Linked DNA regions of Homo sapiens. The protein of the gene in region 3 purifies or fractionates together with the protein of the main gene of each other region. This does not show direct contact. Each region holds a gene or a part of one and is shown on either strand. Other genes may lie near its edges.

Region 1 (3,500 bases), on a different chromosome or scaffold from region 3:
TGAGTCCCTACCAGGCACAGAGATTGTGTAAGAACGATCTTAGCATCCTCAGATGCAGAGCACGACCACCCTGGTGCACACATCCAACAGGAGGCGGGGGCACTCGGAGCTGCAGGCGGGAGCGGGAGGGCCGGGGAGGCAAACGAGGAAGAGCTACCGCGGCGAGTTCACGGCCCGTGGAGCAGCGCGGGCCGTGTGTCCCAAGGCACTATGGCTGCTGAGCGGACGTCTCCTTAGGGTTCTGCAGTGGATCTTGCCCCGCGCTGAAGCCCCACTGGGCCACACTGTCCATCCCAGGAAAAGTGGCTGATCCGCAGGCTCAAAGAGAACCACAGAAATGCTGGTCTCAGAGGGGCTGGGGCTAAGGCCCCCATGTCACACACACAGCACCCATGCGGCTAGACATCTAGATTCTGCAACAAAATCCAGACGTATTTAAGAAGCCAGGCTACAAAACAGGCCACGGAAAAGCACACTTTGAAGGTTTCACATGAAAGCGTGTGCCCGGGCCAAGTGGAAGAGCTGCGTCCCACAGTCTTCAATGCGATGCTCCTTAAAATGCTGCTTCTCCCCAGGCAAGAGTGACTATTGGGTACTTTTAACAACACGCTTCAGTGAACCACAGCTCAGCTGGTCGGCGCTGGTACCTGCTGAGCACCTGGGGGAGCAGGTGTGTAGCCTGAGTGGGGCCAGGCACGGCACGCCAGCTGTCGGGACGGCTCACCTGACTGTGCGACGATGACACTGAACTGCAGGAGCTCCGGCGAGTGTGCGGTCCAGTCAAGGTGCGACGCGGTCACCCGCTCCAGGAGGGGACCAATGTGCTTGCGGTAGAGGTCCTGGCAGCTGCTGACACCCTCCACCATGGCCAGTGAGTCCATCGTCTCCTGTGCCTGGAGGTTACAAGTCAGAGACTGAGACAATTCCAACACTCAGGGCTCAAGCCTGCCTGCCTGCTGGGACTCACTATCCCCCTCACGCGTAAGAACCACACAGGCCGGGCCTGCCAGGATAATCGGGAGGGAGGCTGCCACAGGGAGCCCCGCCCAGGGTGCAGGAGAGCGAGAGCCGCGGGTGCAGGGCGAGACCCTGATCCCGTTCACACCAACGCCGTCTCTGCAGCGAATCATGAAGCAGGCACTGTGCACACTGGGATGCACACAGCACAGGTGGTCCTGGGGCTTACACGGACGTGGTGTCCGCCTGGGCAGGCAGGGCTCCTCTGAGGTGGTGAGGAGCAGAGAGGGGCGGGCAAGTGGCTTAAAGAGTTAAGCCCAGCAGACCAGACCTCCAGGTAAAAGTAACTGGGCAGACAGAGATGATAACCTTGGCCACCTTTTACTTTTAGCTGGCTGCTCTCCTTGGGGGCTTAGGAACAGAGGAAGGGCTGAGGCTCCCCGGTGGCCATTGCCCCAAGCCTGGAGTCTGAATCTGGGGCTACCTGGCTTCGTCCCCCATGACCAGCAGGCAAAGACTTTGCTTTTGCTGGTACCTCAGGCCCTAACAGTGACAGCATCTGCTGAGACACACGCCCCTTGGGAAGCTTGTTTTTAGAGGCCCCAAGAAGGAAGGGGAGGGCAGCAGCCTCCTCCACACCAGGTTCCCCATAGTACATTCAGGCCGTAAATCTCCCAGAGAGAGAATCTGCCGAGAGGGGCTGTCCACAGAGACAGAATGGGAGGAGGAACTAAGTCTCAGCTTCCAGAGAGGCAGACAGATACTGGGGCCTCCAGGGGCCCTAGAAGCCCATTAGAAGGTTGGGGTTAAAAGATTTTTGGGCATAATGGCCAGGTGCGGTGGCTCATGCCTATGATCCCAGCCCTTTGGGAGGCTGAGGCAGGTGGATCACCTGCAGTCAGGAGCTTGAGACCAACCTGGCCAACGTGGCAAAACCTTGTCTCTACTAAAAATATAAAAATTAGCCGGGTATGGTGGTGGGCGCCTGTAATCCCGGCTACTCAGGAGGCTGAGGCAGGAGAATCACTTGAACCTGGGAGGCAGAAGTTGCAGTGAGCCGAGATCGCGCCACTGCACTCCAGCCTGGGTGACAGAGCGAGACTCCACTGAAGAAAAAAGATGATTTTTGGGCATAAACAGGGAGCCCATGGGCGAGAAGTACTTCTGAACGCTGTGCTGCAATGAGAGCGGGAAATCACGGTATCTTCTCTCGACTCAGTCACACATGCACATGCACTTTTTTTTTTTTTTGGACGGAGTCTCGCTCTGTTGCTCAGCCCAGGCTGGAGTGCAGTGGCACGATCTTGGCTCACTGCAACCTCTGCTTCCCTGGTTCAAGCAATTTTCCTGCCTCAGCCTCCTGAGTAGCTGGGACTACAGGCACATGCCAACACGCCTGGCTAATTTTTTGTATTTTTAGTAGAGACGGGGTTTCACCATGTTGGTCAGGCTGGTCTCAAACTCCTGACCTCAGGTGATCCGCCCACCTCGGCCTCCCAAAGTGCTGGGATTACAGGCGTGAGATGCCACGCCCAGCGACATGTGCACTATTAAACCCTACTCAAGTGCGCAGGTTTAAAGGTTACGTCTTATTTCTTGTTTGCTTCTTTGCTGAAGACCCTAACATTAAACAGCTGTCTCCACTCCCTGATGCCAGAATACACTGGCAGCTGGAGAGCTGCCCCGAAGGCCGTTGCCCGGGGACTCACCCGCAAGGTTCTCAATCCCTGGTCTTTGCTGGTCAAGCACAGAGGGGATGCATAGGAGACAGTTCACCTCACTTAGAGATGCCTTCCAGCTGTGAGCTCCGCTAGGTCAAGCAGCAGCCACCACTGTCAGCCTTACCTTGTCCCTCAGGCCGGTAGCACCTGCGAGGGCCACTATTGTCAGCAGCACGTCCAAGAGCTGCAGGCTGGCCACGCCACAGTCCTCATGACACACAGACACCAGAGCCTGCACACACAGCAGCAGGCGCTCCAGGTAGAGGTCCTGGAAGAGACCGGCAGCACCGTCAGAGCTTGGTACAATTTGGTCGTGTCCCCACCCGAATCCCATCTTGAACTGTAGCTCCCATAATCCCCACGTATCCTGGGAGGGACCCTGTGGGAGGGAACTGAATCATGGGGGTGGGTCTTTCCCGTGCTGTTCTCTTGATATTAAGTCTCACGAGATCTGATGTTAGTATAAAGGGCAGTTCCCCTGCACACTCTCTCGCCTGCCGCCACGTAAGACGTGACTTTGCTCCTCCTTTGCCTTCCACCATGATGGTGAGGCCTGCACAGCCATGTGGAACTTTGAGTCCATTAAGCCTCTTTTTCTTTATAAATTACCCAGTCTGTGGTAGATCTTTATTAGCGACATGAGAATGGACTAATACAGGGCTCCCGCTCCGGCCCCAGTGTCAGGGCCGACAGAGCCCGCCCGGGGCTCCTAGTCTACGGCTCACGAGGGGCAGCAGCCATGGGAGAGCCCTTGCAGGGAGAGCCCCCAGGCGCTGGAGGTAGGGTGCCGGCATGTCAACCATAAAAGGGCGTGCTTGTTGA
Region 2 (2,836 bases), on a different chromosome or scaffold from region 3:
TGTGATTACTCTCAATAGACAAGTACTGTTTCAAAAAAAGAAGTTTGCTTTAAAAAAAAAATCAACAAAGCATATAATGCATCTATTGTATGACAAGTGAAGCACTATAGGAACATAAATAAGAGGAAGATGGTCTTAGCCACTAAAGAGAGCTATAAATTACTACTGTTGTTTTGGGACCATTTAAGAAATATTTGAAGGCTGGTTATGGTGGCTTATACCTGTAATCCCAGCACTTTGGGAAGACGAAGTGGGTGAATCACTTGAGGTCAGGAGTTCGAGACCAGCCTGACCAACGTGGTGAAACCCCGTCTCTACTAAAAATACAAAAATTAGCCGGGCATGTTGGTGCACGCCTGTAATCCCAGCTACTCGGGAGGCTGAGGCAGGAGGATCGCTTGAACCTGGGAGGCGGAGGTTGCAGTGAGCTGAGATGGTGCCACTGCACTCCAGCCTGGGAGACAGAGCAAGACTCCATCTCAAAAAAAAAAAAAGAAATATTTTAAACACAGCACTTTATTTCTTGATACATTTCAAACACCAGAAGTTACAATCACTGACTGAAACACTACACAGACCTGCCCCCAACACGTGAGTCCAGAGAATCACATTCCTCTCAGTGTGGATCTACTCGCTCTGTTCTCTGAACTTGGAAAACACTGTAGTGCCATTCTATGAAATGGTCCCCAAGTCACACAGAAGCCACATAAATGATGATTTGGTCAGTTTGATTTCATTTTAAGGTAAAGGAGGATACAAAGTTCACTACTTGAAAATAATTGATTAAGAAGGCAATATGACATTTTCATGCTAGTTTGTGTAGTAATTTTACTGCATAAGAAATTACAGAGATTGCATAAATCATTAGGTCAACAGCATACAGAGAAGAACAAAACAAAACATTGTTTGGATCAAATAAAAAACAGCAGGAACAACTCAATTCTTAAAAATACCACGAATTCCCCGAATGTGGCTCCATTTGATAGAAAATTTTGCATTTTCTGGATAATGTCTGTAGTTACATTAAGCAAAATGGAAAACGGCCTTCAGATAAACACACTAAAAAGCAGCTTACACAGATGTGTTGCCCTCTTCACCTTGGATGTAACAAAAATAAAGATGTGAGGCTGCCTGCTCTTGCCTAAAGCATGGCTTGAACTTTCAATTGATAGTAACCGCTTATGTAAAATATTACATTACATAATCTCCTGTGTATTGAAATTGCACAAGTCAGAGCATCCAAAAACTGCAAGAGTCAATTTCTTCCTATGGGGAAAAGCATATAGATATACTATGTTAAAACTTCCATTCCTCATTCGATTATTTGCCCTATTCAAAACATAAAAATACAAATAAATATTTCCTTACAAAGTTCACAGTATGTTGTTTTAAAAAAAAGAGATAAAAAAACTTAATTTGCTTTGTCATTAAATAAAAATGCTAATATATAGACATGTTCAATATTTATACAAATTGTAGGGGCCAGTGTATCCTTTCTTGGTCATAATTGAAGTTTAATAGTGCTAGTCCATACACGACAAGGCTCAGATCCCAAATGTAAGCTCAATTCTACTAAAAGTTGCTCAAGATAATTTTTTCTCTTTTTCTGTTTAATTAAAAAAGACATTTTTGGAATTTTAGAATTACATTTGAGTTGTCTGAAAAAATACAATTTCAATGAAAAATCATATCACGCATTCAAGAGTATATTGCTGGTGCTATAATCTTTTTGCATGTCTTTGTTTTCATAGAAAAAAATCAGTAAAATAACATGTCTAAGACTTTTAAATGGTTAAATGTAACCACATACTATTAATGATATGCCTCATGCACACACACACTCAAACTCAAAACATGAAGGAAACAGGATCAGACAGCTTTCTTTTGCATTAGTTCTAGCTTTCTTCTCAGCAGACCGTAATTCTCCTTAGTTCCTGATGCCGTGGGGTCAAGCTGCAAGGAGATTTCATAGTGTTTCTTGGCCAAGTCTAGATGTCCCCAACGATGATAAAGCACAGCTGAAATAGCAGGAGATAAATTTCACTGGGAATGCTTCTGAGTAACGTGCCGTATTCCTACCCTCTTGGACAAAGAAATATTACAGATCCTATGCAAACAGTTTTCAAAAGTCAATTGTATGAAACAATATTGTTTGTACTGAAAACTCTATTTATTGTAATCACACTCCCTGATGATTATCCATTTACTGCCAGTTACTCCTAGGGCTCTTCATAGCACTAGATAAGATACATCTGCCTATAGTAACATTATTACATAAAGAAGCAAAAAGAAGAGTACATGCAATGTCTTAGTGCTGCCATGAAATTTCCAGGAAGCAAGGCTGGGTATGGGAGGTGGGGGTGATGGATGCTAGGCACTGCCCAGAGCCCTGACTATGCAGAAGTTCAGCTGTTTATTTTAAATATTTCCTTACACCATTTGGGGAAGTAATAGCTTGTTTGGGTCCATTTAGAAAAAAGGCCTCTGATATCAAGAGCTGACCCTAAAATGATAGTTACAGTAAACCTAATCATTAGGATGATTAGCCTCTGATCATGACAGTGATTTTGTTAGTAAAATTAACTTTCTATATGGGCAGAAGAGCATCTGTGGACGCTTTTTGGCTTTTGTGAAGAGAAGCTTCAGAGTTGGTAGAGAACAGCTTTGGTGAAAAAACATTTCTGTGAGCATTCTAAACATCAACAATGCTATGCTCTAAACATCTTAACTATGGAGACATACAAATGCAAGAAATGAATTCTAGGGAATAAATGATTATAAATGCATTTTAGCCAAGGCATAAGAGGATATAAAGCAGAAGACCAGGCTGGAAGGG
Region 3 (3,118 bases):
AGACTAATGAAAATGTCAACGTGCCATTCAATCACGAAAGGTAACGAAAAATGCTCTCATGGTTCAAATAGTCCAATGGCCCATAGTGGCCTAAAAGGCAGCCAGTTGACACCTGGCCATGCTAAGCTTCCTTATACCATCCGCTAATGACTTTCCATTGGGCCCACAATTTACGGATTCATAATTTTAAAAGAGGAGAAGGCCAAGTTAGGTTCATTCCCCTTATTCTGTCAATAAAACAAATCAAACTCATGTCTATCTAACTGCTCAGGGAGGAGCCTTTGCATGAGAAAATTCTCATATTCTAAGACTGAGTCATAGAAATGAGGGTATTACTTTTCTTACTGCAATTAACCTAAACAAAAGCCATATTTTAACAAATAGATATTTGCATGGTACCCTTCATATATTCCAAGCATTTCACTCATTATTCCAGGTAGGTTAAGAGCTTCTGAAGTGTATGAAGTAAAGGTCAGCAATCCTTTGGGGTGAACAGTGGCCTCCTTTGGAGTTTGGGGGTAACCTGAGACTTCCCACCAATGTCCACCTCCATCTGTGTACCTAATTCCTATTACCTAGTTATGGCTCCTCTAGGATCATTTCCAAACACTCTGGATGTCCAGGAAATTTAAATTGTAGCTTTTGACTGAGCTAGTTTTTCCTATTTATATTAATAAATTTTCAAAAATGCTTGAAATCTTCACATTTGCAACAACTTTAGTTTTCATGCACATACAAACACAGAGAGACAAAAATTCCAAACAGACACTCTCCAAAAGCCACCACACTCTTTCACTTGCTCTATAGTCATTTAGCCAACCAGCCATGCAGAGAATATTTAAAACTTAAAGATTGAGACATTATTCTCAGTTTTTGCTGAGGCTTTGTAACGAAATTGAACACTATAAGCAGCTATTGTAGTAATTTTGGTTAAAATTGTTTGCCTGGGATATAGTATTTGAGGCAGAAGCACGTGTGTGAAGGAGGTGAGGTGGTTTGGAAAGAGTGAAGACTCGCAGCCAGATTGAATGTCTGGATAATTACTATAATTCTCCCTTCTTGGTTGAAACCATGTTCTCTCTTGATTTTTAAACCCAGGCTGCCTCTGGAAACAAGCAAACCTGAGTCTTTCTAACCTGAGTCTTCCCAATCATTAGATTTCTTTTCTGTCCTAACGATGAATGATAAAAGGACTTGATGTTCACAATTTGGGGTTATAAGGCAGGTCTGAAATCTGGAGACTCAAGATGCTGGAAGGAGTGGAAAGTTTCGATGACTTTATATGAATCACTTTGCACTCTATGTTTGGCTTGTCCTCTTTGAAACTGATTTACTAAAATAAATGTAAGGGAACTATTACTCCAAAAGATTAACTTGGCAGGAAATACCAATACTTTCAGTTTATGAAAGACAAAACTGTCTTGTTGCTACAGGAAGCTGCAATGTTCCTAACCTTTAAGGTTGGTGTTGAATAGGGTGGTCATGCCCTCCCCTGCAGGTATCTTTAGGCTCCTGTTGACCTCCTGGTACTATAACTGTTCGTCTTCTCTGGGTAGCTATTGATTTTGAACTTTAACATGCTTCAAAACTTTATTCATCAGGGAAATAGGAAAAGAGTTTTGTTACCTGGAGGAAATCTATTGTGATCTACCTGAGCTTTTTAAAAACAGACCAGGAGAAGGAAACCAGTAATTTTTAAAGAAGAGACAGAGAATGGGATAATAGTTTCACCCAGGATCTCTTTCTAACCCTTTCCCTTCAAATGAACTTATTGGAACAGAATTGGAAAGAAGAAAGGACATCTCTGCCCACCCCACAGGATGCCAAAAAGGCTAAAGAATTACCTCTGTAGATTTAAACATCTTTAATGGCTTATGTATAGATTTGCTAATACAGAGAGAAATGAACTATTAAATAAAAATCACATTTTATAATATTTTTATGGCTTAAAACATCCTTTATCTCCTTTTTGTTCTCTCTACATGATATGGTAAGTGATGAGGAAAATTTAGGCTCAGGAAGGTTAAAATCTTTCTTGGAGTTACACATCTAAGAGAGCTGCAGAGCTGACACTTGTACCCAGGTTTTCTGACTGCAAATCCAGTTTCTTTCTATTGCGTTCTTCCCCTTTCCCTGCCTCAAGCAGAAACAGGTTTTTTATTTTCAACCTTTATGTATACAGTATGTTATGTTACATCTACAGCTAAGTTTCTTTTTAGAAGAATGTGAGCCCTTCTAGCTTTGGTTTAGAGTGATTCTAGAAGCCAATTTCCTTGGCTTAGTGATTCTATGCACCTTTCCTAAACTTAGCTTTCTAAGGAAATGAAGTGTACGAGTGAGAATGAATTCACAATTTCGACATGTAGGTAGCATCCTAAAGTGAAAAGAGGAGGAAATTTGTGGTCAAAGCACTCTCCCCACCACTTAGAAACTTACTGACTGTGGGCAGCTTCCTCCTCCAAGTTTCCTTCCTGATTTACAAGACCGTGGTGTGGTCAGGATTAAACTTGAATACATGTAAGGAAGCCTGAAAGTGTCTAACACATAGCGAGTATTCAAATGCCACCTTCTATTTGATCCTTCCCCTCCAGTTCCTTAAGTTTTGGAATCTAGGTTTCTCAGTTCCAAATGGATTGACATTTGCATATCCCCATTGCACAATGGATCAAATAAACTTTATGTTATCATTTCTCCAACATAGTGCCAGTAAGCAAATCCTTTTTAATAACAACAGTATGTTGAGAAACATATCACCAAATAATATTTAACTTTGTAGCTTTGATAAGTTCTTTAGGTTTTGGTTTTGGTTTTGTTTTCTGAGACAGGGTCTTGATCTGTCACCCAGACTGGAGTGCAATGGTTCAATTTTAGCTCACTGCAACCTGTAACTCCTGAGCTCAAGTGATCCTCCCACCTCAGCCTCTCAAGTAGCTGGGACTACAGGTGTGCTCCACCATGCCCAGCGATTTTTTTTTTTTTTTTTTTTTTTTTTTTTGGTAGGGACAAGGTCTCGCTATGTTGCCCAGGCTGGTCTTCAATTCCTGGCCTTAAGTGATCCTCCTGCCTCGGCCTCCCAAAGTGCTGGAATTACAGGCATGAGCCACCACCCATAACTTTA
Region 4 (3,941 bases), on a different chromosome or scaffold from region 3:
ATACATAAATAAGTAAATAAATAAAAAATAAGTAAATAAATAAAAAGGATAGGTGTGGTGGCATGCCTGCAGTCCCAGCTACTCGGTGGGGGTTGTGGTGGGGTGCTGAGGTGGGAGGTTTGCTTGAGCCTGGGAAGTCGAGGCTGCAGTGAGTCATGATTGTGCCACTGCACCACTCCAGCCTGGGTGACAAAGCAAGACCCTGTCTCTAAAAAACAAAACAAAACAAAACAAACAACAACAACAAAAAACAAGTAGTCCATGATCATGTCTGAACAGTCAGAAAATACCAATGTCAAAAAACAAAGGACACCTTCATGACCCCCATGTCCCCCAGGAGCTGGTCGTCCCAGGTGGGCATGACAGCATCTCTTCATTGGCAGGTGTGATCCTGCTGCGGCTGGACCGGCTCCGGCAGGCTGGCTGGGAGCAGATGTGGAGGCTGACAGCCAGGCGGGAGCTCCTTAGCCTGCCTGCCACCTCACTGGCTGACCAGGTCTGAGGAAGCCTTGCCGGGTGGGGTGTGGCAGGCTGGGGGCTGGGATGTGATGGGTGTCTCTGCTCAGGACATCTTCAACGCTGTGATCAAGGAGCACCCGGGGCTAGTGCAGCGTCTGCCTTGTGTCTGGAATGTGCAGCTGTCAGATCACACACTGGCCGAGCGCTGCTACTCTGAGGCGTCTGACCTCAAGGTGAGTGGGACAAGAGGCTGTGTGGTGGTGGGGGGCCATGGATGGAGACTTCTGCTCCCTGCTCCCATGGCCCCAACACCCTCCTGGGTCCCAGGTGATCCACTGGAACTCACCAAAGAAGCTTCGGGTGAAGAACAAGCATGTGGAATTCTTCCGCAATTTCTACCTGACCTTCCTGGAGTACGATGGGAACCTGCTGCGGAGAGAGCTCTTTGTGTGCCCCAGCCAGCCCCCACCTGGTGCTGAGCAGGTGAGAAGGAGTCACCTTCCCCTGCCCCTCTCTGCTTTGGTGGGACCCAGCCTTGTCTGGGGGATGTGTTGTTCTGCCCTATCCCCGGTCCTTGTCACCCCTTGCCCCCTCAGTTGCAGCAGGCCCTGGCACAACTGGACGAGGAAGACCCCTGCTTTGAGTTCCGGCAGCAGCAGCTCACTGTGCACCGTGTGCATGTCACTTTCCTGCCCCATGAACCGCCACCCCCCCGGCCTCACGATGTCACCCTTGTGGCCCAGCTGTCCATGGACCGGTGAGGGTGCAGAGGGCAGCCCAGGGGGTATGGCATGGGCTGGGGTTGGACACTTCTGAGAGGAGGTTCCATCTGGCAGCCTGATGCTGTGGTAGTGAGCTACCTGTCCCTCAGGGAGTTCCAGAAGTTGGAGACATTGGATATGGTGGAAAGAGCTTGGGCTCTGGAGTCATTCAGATGCCCGGAGCTGCCCCTCGGTCGCTGTGGGACCATGAGCAAGTCTTCATATCTCTGGCCCCTAGTTTTCTCTCTCAAATGAGAAAGTACCCACCTGGTGGGGGTAGTTGTGAAGATTCAATCAGACTGGCTCTAAAAGTATTTGAAGGGTGCTCAGTAAGTCACTTGAGGAGGTGGCAGCAGCAGCTAACTGGGGAGGTTTGCCAGGCCTCCCTGAGCTCCTGTGCAAGAGGGGCAGAGCTGTGCTGACCTCCCTCTCCCCATAGGCTGCAGATGTTGGAAGCCCTGTGCAGGCACTGGCCTGGCCCCATGAGCCTGGCCTTGTACCTGACAGACGCAGAAGCTCAGCAGTTCCTGCATTTCGTCGAGGCCTCACCAGTGCTTGCTGCCCGGCAGGACGTGGCCTACCATGTGGTGTACCGTGAGGGGCCCCTATACCCCGTCAACCAGCTTCGCAACGTGGCCTTGGCCCAGGCCCTCACGCCTTACGTCTTCCTCAGTGACATTGACTTCCTGCCTGCCTATTCTCTCTACGACTACCTCAGGTGGGCCTGCAGGCAGAGAGGGGAACAATATATGGGGTGGACGTGGACGGGGCATGCGTGGGACCCCAGGCTTCCATGTCCCTGCTCCTTTCTGGGCCTCAGTGGCCTCTGTCAATTGGGGTTTGTATTAGGCTGTTTCTCTGGGCTGTCAACAGGGAGGCCAGGGCCGGCTTCAACAGCAGCTCCACCTGTGGTTGTGCCCACCCGTCGCATCAGGCAAGATGGCCCATGGTGGTCTAGTCCTGTGGCTAATGCCCTGATGAGTGTCACTGGCCCAGTCCTAGATGCCCCGCTCTTCTCCCCTGCTCATGGGTGCTCCTCCTCAGGGCCTCCATTGAGCAGCTGGGGCTGGGCAGCCGGCGCAAGGCAGCACTGGTGGTGCCGGCATTCGAGACCCTGCGCTACCGCTTCAGCTTCCCCCATTCCAAGGTGGAGCTGTTGGCCTTGCTGGATGCGGGCACTCTCTACACCTTCAGGTAGGAGAGGCTACTTCTCTGCCCACTCCACTCACTTGCCCACACTGGCCCCCACTACCCACGAGCTCCTAGCCTCAGCCTGGCTCCCACCCGACCCTGCTGCACAGGTACCACGAGTGGCCCCGAGGCCACGCACCCACAGACTATGCCCGCTGGCGGGAGGCTCAGGCCCCGTACCGTGTGCAATGGGCGGCCAACTATGAACCCTACGTGGTGGTGCCACGAGACTGTCCCCGCTATGATCCTCGCTTTGTGGGCTTCGGCTGGAACAAAGTGGCCCACATTGTGGAGCTGGATGCCCAGGTGAGGAGGGCACCTTGCTGCCTCCACCTTTGACTCGAGCACCTCCAGGTCCAGGGAACTCACGACACCTGCATGGGGGACCACACCACTAGGCAACACTGTTAGAAATGTCCCCCTTCTGTGGAATTAAAATAATCTGCCCTTTGGCCCTTGCTTTAGCTCTCAGGGGCTACAGGGTAAGCCTGTTCTCTGGAGCTGCACCTTCCCCGCAGGCCAGGCAAGCCAGGCAGCCACTGCTCCTCTGCCCCACCCTGCAGGAATATGAGCTCCTGGTGCTGCCCGAGGCCTTCACCATCCATCTGCCCCACGCTCCAAGCCTGGACATCTCCCGCTTCCGCTCCAGCCCCACCTATCGTGACTGCCTCCAGGCCCTCAAGGACGAATTCCACCAGGACTTGTCCCGCCACCATGGGGCTGCTGCCCTCAAATACCTCCCAGCCCTGCAGCAGCCCCAGAGCCCTGCCCGAGGCTGAGGCTGGGCCGGCGCTGCCCCTCATCTTAGCATTGGGCAGACACCAGGGCAACCTGCCCTCCGCCATCCCTGCTATTTAAATTATTTAAGGTCTCTGGGAAGGGCTGGGGCAGAGCATCTGTGGGGTGGGGTCTTCCCCTTGCTGCTATTGTATGGCTGGGGACTGGTCTCTCTCTGCCCCAGCCAGTTTGGGGCTGGTTCCCCCATCTTGAATTGTTTATCCCTTTTTCATAATTAAAGTTTTAAAACATCTTTTTTGTGTTCCTGGTTTGGGGGAGCAAGGGCACTCTGGGGCTAGGGCGTCAGTGCACAAGGGAGGTGCTACATCCAGCTGGGGTCACAGGAGGGCCTGGGCCCTTAAGGGCAAGCACCCCCCCGCCCCCCACCCCCAGACAGCCAGTCAGGGAGGGCAGAGGCTGGGACTGGAATGTGTCCTGCCCACCCTCCCCTGCCCCAAACCCAACACCATGAGGCTGAGAGGCTTTATTTGGCTTTATTTAGTAAAATGTTAAAATAAATAAATACAAATTGATCAGCTGCTCTGTATCCCCCCCCACCCCCTCAAAACAAAAACCAAACAAACAAAAACAAAAACTTTGAAGCACAAAACTCCAAATACAAGTCTACCAAGACTGAAATCACAAAGGGCATGGACAAGAGACAGGGTTGGGGTCTGGCTGGCTCTTCTCTGCTAGGAGCTGGCTGACCTCTGGCCTGCCCGTCCCATCCCGCCTGACTGCAGCTCACCCTGG
Region 5 (3,500 bases), on a different chromosome or scaffold from region 3:
GGGTGTCAGGCTTTCCGGGATAGGGCTCTCTAACAACCCCTGACTCTTCGGAGTTGGGAGTGTTGGTTTGCCTGGAACCAGCTTTCCGCTTTTCCTGTACTTCCGGGCTGAGCCGAGGGTCGACAGAGAGGAAAGCCATTCAGCTCCGGGGTCCTGACAACAAGTTGGTTGACCCTGTGGCCATGAGCAGAACTCTCGAAGTCATGTTGCCCAAGCGAGACTCGCCCATCTATCCTACCTATCCTGACCCTTGCCTCCTGGGTCCTAATGCTTGTCAGAAAAACTTTCTCTTGCCTCTCTTCTCTGAGGCTAGTCCCGCTTCTGGAAACCACTCCCTGTCTCTGGTGCTTTTCTAGTTTCTCCTGTAAGAATCATTTCTAGTATAAACTCCAGGACTCTGTTAACCTTCTTTAGGCACCCGGGCTCACCAATTAGAAAGACATAATTTTTGCCCAAAGCCCCATCAGGGTGGGGGACTGTCTTATCCGGAATTTTAGGATCCCTCCTCAGACTAGCAGGCCTAACAAAAGCTATTCCAGAAGCTAGGATACGGGGAGCTTCAGAAATGACATTCTTGTATTCATATAAGTGCGGACAAAAAGGCATCACTCTTCCAACTCTGGAGATCCCTCCCCTCCCTCAGGATATGGCCCTCCACTTCATTTTTGGGGCATAACATCTTTACAGGAGGGGTAAAGTCCCAATACTAACTGGAGAATGCTTAGGACCCTAACAGGTTTTCGAGAATGCATCAGTAAGGGCCACTAAATCCAATTTTTCTCGGTCCTCTTTGTGGTCTAGGAGGACAGGCAAGGGTGCAGATTTTTGAGAATGCATTGGTAAGGGCCACTAAATCCGACCTTCCTCGGTCCTCCTTGTGGTCTAGGAGGAAAACTAGTGTTTCTGCTGCTGCGTCAGTGAGTGCAACTATTCCCATCCGCAGGGTCCAGGGACCGACCGTTGTGGGTTCTTGGGCAAGAGGTGTTTCTGCTGCTGCATCGGTGAGTGCAACTATTCCGATCAGCAGGGTTCAGGGACCATTGTGGGTTCTTGGGCAGGGGGAGAAACAAACAAACCAAAACTGCGGGCGGTTTTGTCTTTCAGATGGGAAACAATCAGGCATCAACAGGCTCACCCTTGAAATGCATCCTAAGCCACTGGGACCAATTTGACCCGCAAACCCTGAAAAAGAGGTGGCTCATTTTTACCGCACTATGGCCTGGCCCCCATATTCTCTCTCTGATGGGGAAAAATGGCCACCTGAGGGAAGTATAAATTACAATACTATCCTGAAGCTTGACCTTTTCTGTAAGAGGGAAGGCAAATGGAGTGAAACACCTTATGTCCAAGCTTTCTTTTCATTGAAGGAGAATACACAACTATGCAAAGTTTGCAATTTACATCCCATAGGAGGACCTCTCAGCTTACCCCCATATCCTATCCTCCCTATAGCTACCCTTCCTATTAATGATAAGCCTCCTCTAATCTCCCCTGCCCAGAAGGAAATAAGCAAAGAAATCTCCAAAGAACCACAAAAACCCCTGGGCTATCGGTTATGTCCCCTTCAAGTTGTAGGGAGAGGGAATTTGACCCAACTAGGGTACATGTCCCTTTCTCCCTCTCTGATTTAAAGCAGATCAAGGCAGACCTGGGTAAGTTTTCAGATGATCCTGATAGGTACACAGATGTCCTACATGGTCTAGGGCAAACCTTCGATGTCACTTGGAGAGATGTCATGCTACTGTTAGATCAAACCCAGGCCTTTAATGAAAAGAATGCGGCTTTAGCTGCAGCCTGAGAGTTTGGAGATACCTGGTACCTTAGTCAAGTAAATGGCAGAATGACAGCTGAAGAAAGGGACAAATTCCCTACTGGTAAGCAAGCCATCCCCAGTATGGATCCCCACTGGGACCTTGACTCAGATCATGGGGACTGGAGTCGTAAACATCTGTTGACCTGTGTTCTAGAAGGACTAAGGAGAATTAGGAAAAAGCCCATGAATTATTCAATGATGTCTACCATAACTCAAGGAAAGGAAGAAAATCCTTCTGCCTTCCTTAAGTGGCTACAGGAGGCCTTAAGAAAATGTACTCCCCTGTCACCAGACTCACTTGAGAGTCAATTGATTGTAAAATATAAGTTTGTTACCCAATCAGCCGTGGATATCAGGAGAAAGCTCCAAAAGCAAGCCCTGGGCCCTGAACAAAATCTGGAGGCATTATTAAACCTGGCAACCTTGGTGTTCTATAATAGGGACCAAGAGGAACAGGCCCAAAAGGAAAAGCGAGATCAGAGAAAGGCTGCAGCCTTAGTCATGGCCCTCAGACAAACAAACCTTTGGTGGTTCAGAAAGGACAGAAAATGGAGCAGGCCAATCACCCGGTAGGGCTTGTTATCAGTGTGGTTTACAAAGACATTTTAAAAAAGATTGTCCAACGAGAAACAAGCCACCCCCTCATCCATGTCCGCTATGCCGAGGCAATCACTGGAAGGCGCACTGCCCCGGAGGACAAAGGTTCTCTGGGTCAGAAGCCCCCAACCAGATGATCCAACAACAGGACTTGAGGGTGCCTCGGGCAAGCGCCAGCTCATGTCATCACCCTCACTGAGCCCCGGGTACATTTAACCATTGAAGGCCAGGAAATTGACTTCCTCCTGGACACTGGCGTGGCCTTCTCAGTGTTAATCTCCTGTCCCGGACGACTGTCCTCAAGGTCCATTACCATCCGAGGAATCCTGGGACAGCCTGTAACCAGGTATTTCTCCCACCTTCTCAGTTGTAATTGGGAGACTTTGCTCTTTTCACACACCTTTCTTGTCACGCCTGAAAGTCCCACACCCTTATTAGGGAGGGATATGTTAGCCAAAGCTGGAGCTATTATCTACATGAATATGGGGAACAAGTTACCCATTTGGTGTCACCTACTTGAGGAAGGAATCTACCTTGAAGTCTGGGCATTGGAAGGACAATTTGGAAGGGCAAAAAATGCCTGCCCAGTCCAAATCAGGTTAAAAGATCCCACCACATTTCCTTATCAAAGGCAATATCCCTTAAGGCCTGAAGCTCATAAAGGATTACAGGATATTGTTAAACATGTAAAAGCTCAAGGCTTAGTAAAGAAATGCAGCAGTCCCTGCAACACCCCAATTCTAGGAGTACAAAAACCGAACGGTCAGTGGAGTCTAGTGCAAGATCTTAGACTCATCAGTGAGGCAGTAATTCCTCTATATCCAGTTGTACCCAACCCCTATACCCTGCTCTCTCAAATACCAGAGGAAGCAGAATGGTTCCCTGTTCTGGACCTCAAGGATGCCTTCTTCTGTATTCCCCTGCACTATGACTCCCATGACTCCCAGTTTCTCTTTGCCTTTGAGGATCCCACAGACCACACATCCCAACTTATATGGACCGTCTTGCCCCAAGGGTTTAGGGATAGCCCTCATCTGTTTGGTCAGGCACTGGCCCAAGATCTAGGCCACTTCTCAAGTCCAGGCACTCT
Region 6 (3,500 bases), on a different chromosome or scaffold from region 3:
GCGGAGGTTGCAGCGAGGCAAGATCACACCACTGCACTCCAGCCTGGGCAATAAGAGCAAGACTGTCTCAAAAACAAACAAATGAACAAAAAAACACTCTCCAACGACACTGCCTGTGGTAGATGCTGTGAGTACACCACCTTCATCCCTTCCCACTCCAATTCAGACCTGCTGACTTCTTACTGCCAACATTTACCCAAAGACTTTGCTTGTGGACTTTCTCTGAACGCAGGCCAGCCGGCTCTGACCACTTAGGAATGGGCAGAAAGCCCTGGGAAATTAGCATCTCCAGATGCAACCTTCAAAAGACTGACCTGGTGGATCAATACCCCAGCTCCCTCATCTCTCTGGTGCAGCATGTCTTATGCTGCCTCCCACAGATCTCTAGAGGGCTGGAACTCCATTTGCTAGGAATAGTAACTTGCTTGATAACATACTGTTACGGGTTGAATCATGTCCCTCCTTTGGGGGGGAACATGTTGATGTCCTAACCCCCAGTATCTTAGAAGGTGACATTCTTTGGAAATAGGGTCTTTGCAGATCTAATTAGTTAAGATGAGTAGGGTAACAGGGTAGACCCTTAGTCCAGTATGACTGGTGTCCGTAGAGGAGAAAGACAGAGACACACACGGAGAAAGACAGCCAGGTGACAGCGGAGGCAGAGATTTGAGTGAATGTATCTACAAGCCAAAGAATGTCCAGGGTTGCTGGGAACAAGCAGAAACTGAAAGAAGGAAGGAAGGAAGGATTCTCCCCTAACAAGTTTGAGAGGGAGTATGGCTCTGCTGACACCTTGATTTTGCACTTCTGGCCTCTGGAACTGTGAGACAATAACTTTCTGTTGTTTTAAGCCAACCAGTTTGTGATACTTTGTTACAGCAGTCCTAGGAAACTAACATACTCATACTGTGTGCATTGACTCCCTGTCTCATTACCTCCCCAATAAATCACTTGTCCTCACGTCCCAGTTTCAGGGTCTGTTTTGGAAGGATCTCAAACTAAGACCAAAACTATTATTATTATTATTGAGACAGGGTCTCGCTCTCACACCCAGGCTGGAGTGCAGTGGTGAAATCTCGGCTCACTGCAACCTCCGCCTCCTGGGCTCAGGTGATCCTCCCTACTTCAACCTCTGGAGTAGCCAGGATTACAGCTGTGCACCACCACACCCGGCTAATTATCTTTATTTTTATTTTATTATTATTTTTTGAGACACAGTCTCACCCTGTCGCCTGGGTTGGAGTGCAATGGCACCATCTCGGCTCACTGCAACCCCACCTCCCAGGTTCAAGTGATTCTCCTGCATCAGCCTCCTGTGTAGCTGGGATTACAGGCTTATGCCACCGGGATTACAGGCATGTGCCACCAGGCTTGGCTAATTTTTTGCTTTTTTTTTGAGACGGAGTCTCGTTCTGTCGCCCAGGCTGGAGTGCAGCGGCACAATCTCAGCTCACTGCAACCTCCACCTCCCGGGTTCAAGAAATTCTCCTGTCTTAGCCTCCCAGGTAGCTGGGATTGCAGGCACACACAATCACACCCGGCTGATTTTTGTATTTTTAGTAAAGACAGGGTTTAACCATGTTGGCCAGGCTGGTCTCCAACTCCTGACCTCAAGTGATCTGCCTGCCTCTCCCTCCCAAAGTGCTGGGATTACAGGAGTGAGCCACCATGCCCGGCCCTATTATCTCTATTTTATAGAAAAGAAACTGAGGCTCGGGAAGTTACTTGCCCAAAGCTACAAAATAAAGGTGAGAACCAACATTCACAGCTGTATGTGAATCTAGAACTGTGCACCTGAAGACTTTAGGGTGGCTAATCCCTTCTGAAGCCTTCTGCCAAGGTGACTGTAAGAACAAGACCTTCTTTGCTTTGCGGCTGGGAGAGGCTTATAGGTTTCATTTCCTATGCCAATTCTAATCCACCAGAAATTGCTGCCTGAAACTGGAATTGTGTTGAGCAGGACTCAGTGCTGTGATGGATTAGTAATGCCTAGCCCAGGCACAGACTGGGTAAAATAGGCAAGTACTTAACATTATTGCCTTTGAAATTTTAGAAGCCTTCTTTTGGGTCTAGAACAGCACTTGCCAAATAGATGTTTAATGGGTTATTATTAAGATCAATCTGTTGAAAAGAAGTTCTAAAGACGGCCGGGTGTGGTGGCTCATGCCTGTAATCCCAGCATTTTTTTTTTTTTTTGAGATGAAATCTCGCTCTCTCACCCAGGGTGGAGGGCAGTGGCGCGATCTTGGCTCACAGCAAACTCCGCCTCCTGGGTTCAAGCGATTCTCCTGTCTCAGCCTCCCGAGTAGCTGGGATTACAGGTGCCCACCACCACGCCCAGCTATTTTTTGTATTTTTAGTAGAAATGGGGTTTCACCATGTTGGCCAGGATGGTCTTGATCTCTTGATCTTGTGATCCACCCCCCTCAGCCTCCCAAAGTGCTGGGATTACAGGTGTGAGCCACTGCACCTGGCAATTCCAGCATTTTGGGAGGCCGAGGTGGTCGGATCACTTGACGTCAGGAGTTCAAGACCAGCCTGGCCAACATAGTGAAACCCCGTCTCTACTAAAAATACAAAAATTAGCCTGGCGTGGTGGCGCACACCTGTAATCCCAGCTACTCGGCAGGCTGAGGCAGGAGAATTGCTTGAATCTGGGAGGCAGAGGTTGGAGTGAGCTGAGATCACACCACTGCACTCCAGCCTGGGTGACAGAGTGAGACTCTGTCTCAAAAAAAAAGAAAAAAAAAAGTTCTAAAGACTAGATTAATGTGGCCAGCACTGGGTTAAAAACAAAAAAAGTTAAATCACTTTACTGAGAGACTTCTCGGAGCCTTTAAGGGACAAACACAGATTTTGAAACTCCAAGGTTTCTAAAACCTCTTAGACTTTTAAAGTCCCTTTTTGGGTAAAGAATGCATTAAATAATAAGACTGTGTCTTCTTTCTGTCTTTCTTTCTTTCTTTTTTTTTTTTTTTGAGACAGGATCTTGCTCTGTTGCTGAAGCTGGAGTGCATTGGCATGATCACAGCTCACTGAAACCTCTGCGTACTGGGCTCAAGCAATTCTCCCATCTCAGCCTCCTGAGTAGCTGGCACTACAGGTGTGCACCACCACACCTGGCTATTTTTTTTTTTTTTGAGACAGAGTCTTGCTCTGTCACCCAGGCTGGAGTGCAGTGGCACGATCTCAGCTCACTGCAAGCTCCGCTTCCCAGGTTCATGCCATTCTCCTGCCTCAGCCTCCCAAGCAGCTGGGATTACAGGTGCCCGCCACCATGCCTGGCTAATTTTTTGTATTTTTAGTAGAGATGGGGTTTCACCATGTTGGCCAGGATGGTCTCGATCTCTTGACCTTGTGATCCACCCGCCTCGGCCTCCCAAAGTGCTGGGATTACAAGCGTGAGCCACCGTGCCTGGCCACCTGGCTAATTTTTAAATTGTTTTATAGAGACTGGTCTCGAACTCCTGGGCTCAAGCAATCCTCCCACCTCGGCCTCC
Region 7 (3,500 bases), on a different chromosome or scaffold from region 3:
CCATTGATGAAGAGGGTCCGCTTCACCTGGGTGACAGGGGAGTGGGTTTGCCTTCTGAGGCTTGACCCCAGTGGAGCCAGGGGATGTGAGGGGTGGGGGGCACTAGAGAAAGAGGCTTTGTTTTGAGTGGGTAGAGAAGTAGGTGAGCAGAGGGGAACAGATGGGGTGGGAGGAGGCCTTAGTTATGGATAAGCCAGGTCCCAGGGAAAGCAGGGGAGTGTTTCCAACAGAAATCAGGCAGTGAGCCTAACAAAAGAGCCACGCCGTCCCATGCTCTTGAGGGGTTATAGAGGCAGAAGGGGGTACTACTTTCAGCTCCTTAGACCCTGAGAACCCAGCACAGTGGCTGGCATGGAGTAGGTGTCCGGTTCTGGCTTGGTGAGTGCATGTAGAAGGGGAAGGAATATTACTATCCTAGGATCAGCCACTGCTATTTTCCCAAGTGCTGGGCACAGCACGGCTGTTTCTGTGTATTCCCCACAACCTTGGGGGAGGTACTGTTGTTATTCCATTTTACAGATGAGAAAATCATGGCTTGGGAGGTTATGTAACTTGCAGGATGGGAGCTCCTGAGCTGCTGTGCCAGCATTCAAACCTAGCTGACACCTCTTGGGGCTGAGACAAAAGAGGCCTGCAGGGAAGGGAAGGGAAGAGGCTGGGGATGGGGCAGGACCTGGGCTCTGCTCCACGCACCAGATCATCCTCCTTGTAGCGCATCTTGGAGGTGTGTCTACGCATGCTGTAGACGGTGAGCAGCAGATACAGGAAGGCGAAGGAGGTGTGCAGCCATAGCAGGTTGTTCCTGGGAGAAGCAGAGAGGATACATGGGAGCCACTGGGGCTAGGACACACTCAGAGGAGACACCTCAGCCTGTCAGTGTTAAACCCTTGATACAGACAGGGCCCTCTACTGCCACCAGCCTTCTGGCACTGACTCCTCGCAAGGCAGGCCCACATCCCACATCCCCTAGACACCAAAATTCTTCGATTCCAATGAAAATATCCCTGATAGGTCACCTTTCTACGCCCTACCCACTGGTTACAGTGTCTCCAACTGCCCCAGCTGGCCCTCCCTGGTTCCTGAGATTTCACCCTCCTCTTCTGTATCCTCTTCATCCTTGGGGGATCCTCAGCAGGCATTTCCCTCTTCTGTCTCCAACCCAAGCCCTCAGGGACCCATAGCCATCCCTGTAGGCTCTGCTCCCATCAACGCAGCTGCCTTTCCTCCCTGTCCCACATCATGGCCCAGACTCTGGTCGTAGACCTTGGCCTGGCCGACCAGCTTCGCATCTTACCCTGATTTCAAGTTGGCAATGGTGGTTCTCCCAAAGCTGTAGGCATTGTTCTCTGTGGGGTGGGAAGAGGGAGAGGATGATGGTGGGGTCAGGGCACATCCCCTCCAGCCCCATCCTCTCTCCACCCTAGCCGTCCTGGCCCTCACTGACCCAGCAGGTCCCCTGAGAAGTTGACAGGCAGCACGATGCCTACGGAGAGGACGCCCACAACCACCAGCAGCCCGATGATGTGCCGCTGAAAGGACAGGTAGTGCACGGCATCGCCCCCACATTTGTCCCGGATCTCATCATCCCTGCAGCCATACGGGTTGGACAAAGGAATTAGGTTAGGACCAGGGCAAGAAGGGGGCTGCAACTTGCCTGCCCTCACCCACTCCCACCCCAAACCCACCCTAGCTCCAGCTGATCTGGCAGTAGTATAGGGCTGAAATGGGACTTCTTGGTCCCCTATTTTCTGTGAAGGGAGAGGGGAGAAAGGGAGAAGAGAGGGGGAGGGAGAAAAAGGAGAAATGCATGGAGAAGGGGAGGGATGAAGGCAGAGGGCTAGAAGGAAAAGATAGGTAAAAGAAAGAAGAGACTGCAGAGACAGGAAGGGGAAGAAGAAAAATGAGGAATGCAGAGAAAAGGGAAGAAAAAAGAGAAATATCTGAGGAGGGAGGAAGGCAAGAGAGGAGGAGGACCAGCAGGAGGAGGAGTGGTGAAAGAGGCAGAAGTGAAGGAAGGATGGGAGGAGGGGCAGCAGCACCTCATGGGTGTGGCTGAGCCTGGCGTAGTGAAGCCCGGGTACCCTTGGGGGAGGCCTGGGGGAGTGGTGGCGGCAGTGCTGACCTGTCCTGGCTTCCTGCCTTTCTCAGCGCTCACTGCCTGCCTGCTGGACTCTGGCTGGATCTCCTGAGTTCTGCCTGCAGCTGGCTGGCTGCTCCCAGCCTACTGCTGCCCCCACTCACTGGCTGCACAGAGGTTGAGGCAGGGGCTCCACCCCCTCCCTCAAGGTGGGGCAGGGCAGGGAGAGAAGCGGGGGGGCCGGCAGGGGGTCACAGAGGAGATTATGGGGTCAAGTGAGTGTTCAGGGTACAGCAGAGGCTCAGGCACCCGAGGCTTGGCCTTTGAGAGCAGGGAGGAGGGTGCTGTGCTGGCGAGGAGTGCTAAGGCCCTGAAAGCTGCTGGCTTCTGAATTTTGTAGGGAGATGCCAGGTTCTGAAGTTTCTCTCTTTCTTTAGAGCTTGAAGATGGTCCACTTACTTTATCCTGAAGATGGCTGTCAGCCAGGAACAGAAACCCTGGGGGAACAGAGGGCTGTCAGCGGGAGTCCCCAGCCCACCAACCCGAACCTCTCTCCTCCCTCAAGTCCCACCCATTCTCATAATTACCTCCAGGCATAGCTTCCACACCCCTCACTAAAAAAAAATCCTTATACCCTCAGAACTAGCTTATACCCAAAAAGGGAGAGAGAGAGGGAAGGTCTCAGCCCTCAAAGAAAAAAGACCAACACTAAACAGGTTTATCTGTGAATCCCCATGTCCAGATCTACAGATTTCTGCAAATACCCTGTGGCTGTGTGGGCCAGGGTGGGATGGGTGGGGCTTGGGGTTCTAAGGTTAGCAGGACCTCCAGACCTCCGGCTAATAAGTTTGCAACATGGCTGCCAAAAGCAGAGAAGAGGGCCTTGCTGCCTGAATTCCAGCTATTTATCCTCTAGTCTACCCCAGAAGGACAAAAGCCCAGGGTCACTATGAGCTGCAAGGTATCTCCCCACCTCCGGCCAGGTGCGGTGGCTCACGCCTGTAATCCCAGCACTTTTGGAGGCCAAGGCGGGCGGATCAACTGAGGTCAGGAGTTCGAGATCAGCCTGGCCAACATGGTGACACCCCGTCTCTTACTAAAAATACAAAAATTAGCTGGGTGTGGTGGTGCGCGCCTGTAATCCCAGTTACTTGGGAGGCTGAGACTGGAAAATTGCTTGAACCCAGGAGGCGGAGGTTGCAGTGAGCTGAGATCACACCACTGCACCCTAGCCTGGGCGACAGAGCAAGACTCTGTCTCAGGGAAAAATTAAAAAAAAAAAAAAATCTCTCCCCTCCACCCTCCAGGCATGTAAAGGCAGAGAATGGGGATATTCAGGGGAGGGCTGCGCAGAGGGCACCCTGCCCCAAACTCCATCCAGCAGAAGGTCCAGACATAACACAGGATGGGGTAGAAAGGTGCC

The links.
Region 1: the proteins of NRG1 (region 3) and DNAAF5 purify together in Homo sapiens (affinity purification with mass spectrometry; 3 studies listed by BioGRID and IntAct, with this or other methods). This does not show direct contact.
Region 2: the proteins of NRG1 (region 3) and TMTC4 purify together in Homo sapiens (affinity purification with mass spectrometry; 3 studies listed by BioGRID and IntAct, with this or other methods). This does not show direct contact.
Region 4: the proteins of NRG1 (region 3) and LARGE2 purify together in Homo sapiens (affinity purification with mass spectrometry; 3 studies listed by BioGRID and IntAct, with this or other methods). This does not show direct contact.
Region 5: the proteins of NRG1 (region 3) and GALNT11 purify together in Homo sapiens (affinity purification with mass spectrometry; 3 studies listed by BioGRID and IntAct, with this or other methods). This does not show direct contact.
Region 6: the proteins of NRG1 (region 3) and SLC25A23 purify together in Homo sapiens (affinity purification with mass spectrometry; 3 studies listed by BioGRID and IntAct, with this or other methods). This does not show direct contact.
Region 7: the proteins of NRG1 (region 3) and TMEM63B purify together in Homo sapiens (affinity purification with mass spectrometry; 3 studies listed by BioGRID and IntAct, with this or other methods). This does not show direct contact.

What each region holds. Positions count from the first base shown.
Region 1 is NC_000007.14:761,199-764,698, reverse strand, and holds part of DNAAF5 (dynein axonemal assembly factor 5), read right to left. Parts: intron 2,947-3,500; coding exon 2,803-2,946; intron 894-2,802; coding exon 725-893; intron 1-724. UniProt on the Homo sapiens protein: Cytoplasmic protein involved in the delivery of the dynein machinery to the motile cilium.
Region 2 is NC_000013.11:100,603,125-100,605,960, forward strand, and holds the end of TMTC4 (protein O-mannosyl-transferase TMTC4), read right to left. Parts: intron 2,019-2,836; coding exon 1,870-2,018; 3' UTR 501-1,869; downstream 1-500. UniProt on the Homo sapiens protein: Transfers mannosyl residues to the hydroxyl group of serine or threonine residues.
Region 3 is NC_000008.11:32,768,311-32,771,428, forward strand, and holds part of NRG1 (pro-neuregulin-1, membrane-bound isoform isoform HRG-alpha proprotein), read left to right. Parts: 3' UTR 1-3,118. UniProt on the Homo sapiens protein: Direct ligand for ERBB3 and ERBB4 tyrosine kinase receptors. Concomitantly recruits ERBB1 and ERBB2 coreceptors, resulting in ligand-stimulated tyrosine phosphorylation and activation of the ERBB receptors.
Region 4 is NC_000011.10:45,925,656-45,929,596, forward strand, and holds the end of LARGE2 (xylosyl- and glucuronyltransferase LARGE2), read left to right. Parts: intron 1-383; coding exon 384-496; intron 497-566; coding exon 567-692; intron 693-786; coding exon 787-942; intron 943-1,055; coding exon 1,056-1,216; intron 1,217-1,659; coding exon 1,660-1,938; intron 1,939-2,093; coding exon of another isoform or gene 2,094-2,264; coding exon 2,265-2,414; intron 2,415-2,521; coding exon 2,522-2,717; intron 2,718-2,876; coding exon of another isoform or gene 2,877-2,974; coding exon 2,975-3,190; coding exon of another isoform or gene 3,191-3,269; 3' UTR 3,270-3,441; downstream 3,442-3,941. UniProt on the Homo sapiens protein: Bifunctional glycosyltransferase with both alpha-1,3-xylosyltransferase and beta-1,3-glucuronyltransferase activities involved in the maturation of alpha-dystroglycan (DAG1) by glycosylation leading to DAG1 binding to laminin G-like domain-containing extracellular proteins with high affinity and in a phosphorylated-O-mannosyl trisaccharide dependent manner.
Region 5 is NC_000007.14:152,032,174-152,035,673, reverse strand, and holds part of GALNT11 (polypeptide N-acetylgalactosaminyltransferase 11), read right to left. Parts: intron 1-3,500. UniProt on the Homo sapiens protein: Polypeptide N-acetylgalactosaminyltransferase that catalyzes the initiation of protein O-linked glycosylation and is involved in left/right asymmetry by mediating O-glycosylation of NOTCH1.
Region 6 is NC_000019.10:6,446,293-6,449,792, forward strand, and holds part of SLC25A23 (mitochondrial adenyl nucleotide antiporter SLC25A23), read right to left. Parts: intron 1-3,500. UniProt on the Homo sapiens protein: Electroneutral antiporter that mediates the transport of adenine nucleotides through the inner mitochondrial membrane. Originally identified as an ATP-magnesium/inorganic phosphate antiporter, it also acts as a broad specificity adenyl nucleotide antiporter.
Region 7 is NC_000006.12:44,137,554-44,141,053, reverse strand, and holds part of TMEM63B (mechanosensitive cation channel TMEM63B), read right to left. Parts: intron 2,575-3,500; coding exon 2,537-2,574; intron 1,588-2,536; coding exon 1,445-1,587; intron 1,347-1,444; coding exon 1,295-1,346; intron 803-1,294; coding exon 694-802; intron 27-693; coding exon 1-26. UniProt on the Homo sapiens protein: Mechanosensitive cation channel with low conductance and high activation threshold. Osmosensitive cation channel preferentially activated by hypotonic stress.